Homo sapiens: one gene and its partner. The protein of the gene in region 1 interacts with the protein of each later gene in a biochemical or structural test. Each region holds a gene or a part of one and is shown on either strand. Other genes may lie near its edges.

Region 1 (3,826 bases):
TAAAATGCTCTCAGATGCTTGCAAAAACAATTACTCCATCAGATAAGAACACATCAAAAATTTGGAAAATTTAAAAAAAGTCATTCCAGCTATATGCAAATAACTTTTAGTATATGCATCTGAAAAGCTACCAAACGTAACAATGAAACTCTAAACTTGTAGTAGAAAGGTAAATGCACTGTGATCAGCTTTCACATCACTTCAGAGTATATTCTAAAACTTCTTAGATTCTACATTATTTATAGAGTGAACTCTAAATTCAAACATTTCTCAGGAACAAAACGACTCCCATCCAATTATTTAATTAGGGAAGAAGAGATCCCAAATTTTCTTGCTAATTTATGACAACTTGCCAAGCAGGCAAGAATCTGCAAGACAGGTCATCTGCAAAGGCATAGTGATATAGTAACATATTCTAACAGAATCTCATTTGGCAAAATCTTTCCATGCTCTGGTGACTTCTGACATTGAAGTGCCATAAGGGACATCTACCAAGAAATAGGAGCTGGTAGAATATTGAATGGAAAGCAACCCATGTGAGATCATTTCTAGGGAAGAGTAAGATCTGGGCACACAGGGTCAAGATTATCCAACACAAGGAGTGAACTGTAATAAAAGCACCGAACATCCTACAAAAGGGATTATTATTTTTAAAACCCTCAGCTATTTTATAGACTAGTAAGACTGCTGGTCAATTTAAAAGCCATGGAAAATGCCCCACATTATATTGATGGCTATAATTAGGTTAATTAGAAAGTGGCTATATAATAAAAGACATCCTAGATGCCAAAAGTCTTTAAAATAGAACCAAAGAACATCCACAGCAAAAGGGGAACTGGGGGAGACGCGTGAAGTTCACTTACCTTTGATCAGCAGCTCGTAGAACTGGGGTTCTATTGCTCCAACAGCCATGAATTCCCCATCTGCTGTCCTGTAAGTCGTATAGAAAGGTGCTCCACCATCCAACATGTTCTGTCCTCGAGGTGCTTCCCACAGACTCAATTTCTGAGTTTTCCACAGAAAAGAACTTAAATATGCTGTTCCTTCCACCTTTGAGAAAACAGAATACAAGACAAATCCAGATAACTCAAGTGTCAAAGCATGAATAATTCCTCCCATTCAAGTTAAAAAAAATTTGCGTAAAAATTCTTATCTTAGAGTATACGAAGATTCTACCTAATTACACAACTTCTCTGGTATTTCCAGAAAGTGAGTTAGAGCAGTTTGTGTTAAAATAACAATTGGCTGCACTATTCAGTTCCAAAAATACTATAAGACTTAGAAGAAATGACCTTTGCTTTCCATTTCAAATAAGATTGGCAAAATGCTAGTGATTTAGCTAGGTGAGGGTACATGGAAGGTCACTATACTATTCTCTCTACTTTTTATAATGTTAAAAACTGCCAAGATAAAAAGTTAAAAATTAAAAGAGCTTTTAAAAATCCATCTTCTGATCTCCATACCTATAAACACACACAGATGTATAAACCATACCACATTTTAAAGGTAAATCACATAAGAGTAAAATTTGGCTTATTCTGGCTTGATTCCAATCCCAAGAAAACTGTATTTGAGTATTTAATGTATTTCATAATCACTAGAAAGTTATAAAATAAACTAACAATATGGATGGCAGGTATGTGCATTTTCTGAGTCCAGGCAAACTGGTTTGGGAATGCCACCTTCCCACTGAGTCCTAAAGTCATCTCATCACGCCACCTTCCCACTGAGTCCTGAAGTAATTACACAATAAAGTACAATTATCACAAGGCTCAAACTCAAAGGCTGAAGGCACTGGACTATTTGAAGAAGATGATGTTCTGACCTTTATGCCTTTTATGAGCCTAATGTCTCCAGCACCCCAGGAGGAAGGCCTTCAAAGCATCCTCGTCTCAAAAGCTACCAATAGAGCAGGCCTCATTCCAACTGCTAGCAATTTCTCAGTTACTGACTGTGGAACAACCACAAAATGTATCTTTGGATATATCCAATTTTCCCTCTTAACTTGAAATTTCACGCACATCTGAATTTATGGCTGTGACATTTATTGTCACCAAATAGCTGAGTTCATGCAAGTGGCCTACGGCAGTGCCTTTTTTTGAGGCTGGATTACAGAGATATTAGAGTTCCACATTTATACACATACACACACACACATATATACACATATGCATGTATATGCGCACTATTTTAAATATATTTTATGTTTATGTTATTTAAGCACATATTTAAATGTATCCTATACCAAATTCTGACTCATCAGAGCCTCAACTCATTAACATTTGTTGCTAGACTTTAAAATAAAGCTTTTCCTTCCAATTTTGCATAAATATTACCTTGTATTTGAAACACTATTGAGGAAAACCTTTGTTCTGCATGGTTCTCCTCTCCTCTTAATTTGTGCTGACTCATACAAAACCAACAAGTTAGCACCTTCAATAAGCAAGTGCCTGCTTTCCGCTCAAGCTTTACTTCTCTCAGAGCCTAACGCCGAATCAATAGGGCGGTAATAGATGAACTGGAAGCAAGCTTGTCATACAGTGCAAGAGAGAGTTTTAGCAGAGAGTTCTGAATACTGTTTATCTGGCTTTCATGTTCAGGCCAAAGAATGTGAGAAGTTTTTACACACTGTAGTGAGTCGACCTAGAAACAAAGTATTTTTGTTCTGCTTCATCATAAATGAAATGCAATCTGAAATTTTAAGCAAGTTTTTAAAAATATAGGGTCTTTTTTTTTTTGAAATGGAGTGTCACTCTGTTGCCCAGGTTGGAGTGCAGTGGCACAATCTCAGCTCACCGTAACCTCCACCTCCAAGGTTCAAGCGATTCTCCTGCCTCAGATTCCCGAGTAGCGGGATTACAGGTGCCTACCACACCCAGCTAATTTTTGCGTAAAAACTATGGATATTTTTAACTTATCTCTGTAACTCAGGATTTTCCTAACATCCAGTCAAAATGAAATACAGTAATAAACTGAATACTGAAAGCGATGAGACAATCACCCATAAACTCTAACTTCCAGTGTTTGTGTTTAGCAGAACAGCTTCGTTGGTCTGACAAAATAATATATAAATATTGAATATGTAAACATAAAATGTTTTATGCTAATAAAATACCCCTTTAATCTCTTTTATATGTTGAACGCCCTGATGAGACTGCTGAAAAATAGACGTGTTAACAGAGTTACAGATCCAGTTGGGTCCACTCAGGACAAAAACAAGCTCTGGTCTAATCCTTAGCATCAGAGGAGGTACAGGACAAGAAATACAGCAGGAACCCTCCTCGTCTCATCATAAGGCCTGGCAGTGGCTACCCTGGCACACGGCTTCTCTTGCCCCATCACTCATATACCATGCATGCGAGTGAAGAGCCCCCTGACACAGGGAAACCGCAGCCTCAATTTGCCACCAACCTTTGATACTGTTAAAAGAAAAACTTTAGACGAATTAATTTAAGAGTTTAACTGAGCAACGAATGACTCATGAATTGGGCAGTCTGTGGAACCAGACTAGGTTCAGAGCGACTAGTGTAGCCCTGGGGCCAAAGAGGACTTATGGACGGAAAATGATGTACAGAAAACAGAAGTGAGGTACAGAAACAGCCGGATTGGTTACAAGTGGGCCTTTGCCTTGTTTGAACATGGTTTGAACAGCTGGCCGCCTGTGATTAGTTGAAGTACGGCTGCTGTGATTGGCTGAGACTTGCTGCTTGTTACAAAAGCAGGTTACAGTCTGTTTACACATCCAGTTAGGTCACAGCTCATTATGTAAGAGAAACCTTTAGGTGGAACTTAAAATACGTAAGGGGGCAGCTTTATGCTACAGTTA
Region 2 (3,826 bases), on another chromosome or scaffold:
TGATTCTTCTTGCCCTAAGCCTATCTAATCAGGTACATGGTGGGAAGGGCAGTCTCTTCAGCTTTCCTCTTCCTGATTGCTCTCAAAAGTTAGCCTTTTTCCTGTTTAAGATATCAAGAATAACAAGAGATACACATAGAGAAAGTTACCAAGTTCCAGGATCTCGGGGAGTCACATCATCATGGTTCCTGAATTTTTCTGAGATGATTAAAGGGACTGAATTGGTTTCTACCCCCACCATTTTAATTTATGTTCTTTCTTCGTTTGCTACAGATTTCAAGGTCTCAAGTCTAATTTTCCTTGAGAGCATCCATTGCTCCTCGCATCCTTTAGGATTGATTCTTCTTACCCGAAGCCTATCTGATCAGGGACAAATGTGTGTGAAGGAGGCCCATGTTTAGGATGGGCTTCTCCGCACACAAGAGAAAAATCCCAAATCTAAAAACTAAAACTCACCTTTAATAAGATCTGTGGGTCTCTTTTATCACGTGTCTCTTTCCCACCCATAAGTTGGAGTTAAGGTAGAACAGTAGGTGCTCTTGGCTTTAAGAGTGCTAATCACTTTATCTTCTTAAGCTCATTAGAACTTCACAGTAACAGTAACACAAGGTGGATATCCCACCCCCATTTTATAGATGAGGAGACTGAGATTTGGAAAAGTTAAATACTTTGTGCAAAATCATTGAATAATAGAGATGATATTCAAACTCATGTCTGTGTGGCTCTTGAGATTCTTTTTTTTTTTTTTTTTTTGAGACAGGGTCTTGCTCTCACCCAGGGTGGAGTGCAGCGGTGCAATCTGTACGCACTGCAACCTCTGCCTCCTGGCTTCAAGGGATTCTCCCGTTTCAGCCTCCTGAGTAGCTGGGACTACAGGCGTGTGCCACCATGCCCGGCTAATTTTGGTATTTTTAGTAGAGACAGGGTTTCACCATGTTGGCCAGGCTGGTCTTGAACTCCTGACCTTAAGTAATCCACCACAGCCTCCCAAAGTGCTGGGATTACAAGCGTGAGCCACCGCACGCGCCCTCACGTTGAGATTCTTTGTGAAATTGCCGCAAGTTAAAATCTGAACCATAGCAAAGACCCTCTCCAAGACAGAAACTCAGTTTTTCACATAAACCTTAGACTTAAGTGCTATCTCTTATCACAGAGAGGCTTCTGTTGTAATGTGGGCATTAGTCATTTTTGATAATTCAGAAAAATCATTGCTACTATGAGCGTTGAGATGGATGAAATTTTTGCTGTAATTACCTGAATTGCATGCAGCCATTGAAATCTTCCTTAACTTGAAATGAAAAAGAACTTTAGAAAAACATGTTTTATCTGTCTCACCAGTTAAATGCTCTTAGTAGAGCTCTTCTAGTATTTTGTAGATTCTTTTGGAATCGTGCCTGTTTCACAGAGGCAGAGACATGCAAACCTTAGAATGGGAGTTGAGCTGTTTGAAGTCTGCCTTCATAAAAATGTCTTATTGCAGCAGTATATTGCTTTGCATGTAGTAGGCCTCTGGTATTGAATGAATGAATTGAGATCTGGGAGAAAAAGCTAAAGGAAAGGAGTTCATTTTGTCGTAACTGACTTTTTTTTATTATCCTTCATTTTTAATTACAGCATTTGTGGTTGATACAATTGTATGGGTTAGCTATGGCTTTATAGATAAGTAGATTTTGAGATGAAAGAAGGTTATACTTTTTAAGTTCTTATTTTAAAATCTCCACTGTTAAGAGTCAAAATCAAGTTTAAAAAGAATGTTGCAGCTCAATTATTTAAATTTAAATTTTTTATTTGGAAGTACTTAGTTTCACTGGAAGTTGAAAAAAAAAATGTATAGGAAGGTTCTGTATACCCTTCACCCAGTCTCCTCCAGTGGTAACATTTTACATAGCAGTTATGCAGAGATCAAAAATCAAGAAGTTGCCCTTGTTTCAATCCTCAGAGTTTATTAGGTTTCACCAGTTTTACATGCCCTTATTTGTGTGTGTGTGTTTTTTGCAATTTTATTAAATGTGTAGATTTGTGTAAGCACCATCATGATCAAGATACAGAACTATTCTCTCACCACATGAAGTTCATTTTTTTAGCTTACCTTATTTTGTAATGGAATCCCCCCGTCTTAAATCTTCTGGGTCAAATAATTCTCCATCTTGTGTTTGCTCAGATCTAGAGATAAAACACATCTTCAGGGTTCTTAAATTTAGACAGCTTCGGTTGACATGGTATGTGAGGTTCATATGATAATCGTGAGAGATAAACCTGCACTTTCATGGGAAAAGCCATGGATAGCAGTAGCAGAAGATAATTGGCAACAGATCTTTTCTGGATGTTGGAGGAGAGGCTTTGGAATAACAGTCTCATTGTGATGTTTTCTGCTTTTGTTATAGGTTTGCCATGAGCAGACTAATGATAATAACTAACATTTGTTACTGTATTCATTGGTTTTCACCGCAGCCCCTACTGTTATCTCTGCTTTAAAGATAAGGACATGGAAACTTAAGAAGGTTGAGTAACTAGTCTGAAGATGCACAGTGAATAAGTGATGGAGTTAGGATTTAAATGTGGGTAGACTGACCCTACAACTTGTATTCTTCTCCACAGTGCTGCTATTTAGCAGACACAGAAACTTTCATGAGTAAGAGTAGCAAGTTCTGAGTTTTTGACTTTTGAGCTTGGGGAAGATGTGCCTAGAAGGAATGAGTAAACAACGAGAAATTATATGAGGTGCACATTTTGAGTGGGGTATTTGGTGTCTAGGTTATTCTCACTCTACTAATCTGTATGACCTCAGGCAGTGCATCCCCTCTGTAGACCTTAGTTGCCTTGATCTCAGATGTATCCACATGGATCTGATTTTCTGTAGGAATTTCTCAAAGATTGTGAAGGCAGTGTGTTACTCTTTTGATTCTTTCGGTTATTTGACTCTTGTTGGAGTAGGTTCCCAATGCCAAGAAATTCTGGGTCTTGTGGCGATTTAATCTGGCCAACTACCAAATTATAGGTATTTGAGGATAGTTTTTCTCAGCTCTGGGATTTTTTTTCTTAAACTGCCTCATATCTATTGTTAAGTCCTCATGTCTGTTGTAAAAATTCAAAGGTGCTTTGTGTTTTTTCTGTTTTTTTTTTTTTGTCCTTGAGAGGACCATTTCATAGGAATTTGAAATGTTTTCTGTGAATTTGAGGAGCACTTATGGCCAGAATATGCTTTTGCAAAATACTCTAGTTGAGAGTTAGAAGTGTTTGGAGAGTTGAGGAGGTAGTAGTTATTTTTCAACAGAATGGAGCTAAGAATTTCAACTAAGAATGGAACTAAGGAACTAGGAGATCTTAAAGTCTCTTTGAGTATTAAGCATCTCCTTTCCGTCTCCACACTTGAGGCAACAGTCTAATTGGGGCAAATGGAAGAGAAATGCTTCCTGTAAGAGCTAGTGAGCAGAATCTGTATTTAATTTTTGAGAGTCCTTGAAATTAACAGATGGATCTATGGTCAAAAAAAATTGCCAACCATATTTCTTATTACATTATACATTATATATTATATATATTATATATACATTTTACATTATATATAATGTATATATAATGTATTTCTTATGTTATAACGTATTTCTTATTACATTATGTTATATATAATGTATTTCTTATTACATATGTTACATATAATGTATTTATTACATTATATATTATATATAATGTAATATATGTTATGTAATAATTATATATGTCATATATAATTTAATTATATGTCATATTTAATTATATATGTCATAATTTATATATGTCATATATAATTTAATTATATGTCATATATAATTTAATTATATATGTC

Evidence for each region.
Region 2: the proteins of AMACR (region 1) and PEX5 interact in a test that uses a peptide from one of them, tested with the Homo sapiens proteins (one large-scale study listed by BioGRID).

Annotation. Positions count from the first base shown.
Region 1 is NC_000005.10:33,997,778-34,001,603, forward strand, and holds part of AMACR (alpha-methylacyl-CoA racemase), read right to left. Parts: intron 1,051-3,826; coding exon 864-1,050; intron 1-863. UniProt on the Homo sapiens protein: Catalyzes the interconversion of (R)- and (S)-stereoisomers of alpha-methyl-branched-chain fatty acyl-CoA esters.
Region 2 is NC_000012.12:7,192,501-7,196,326, forward strand, and holds part of PEX5 (peroxisomal biogenesis factor 5), read left to right. Parts: intron 1-3,826.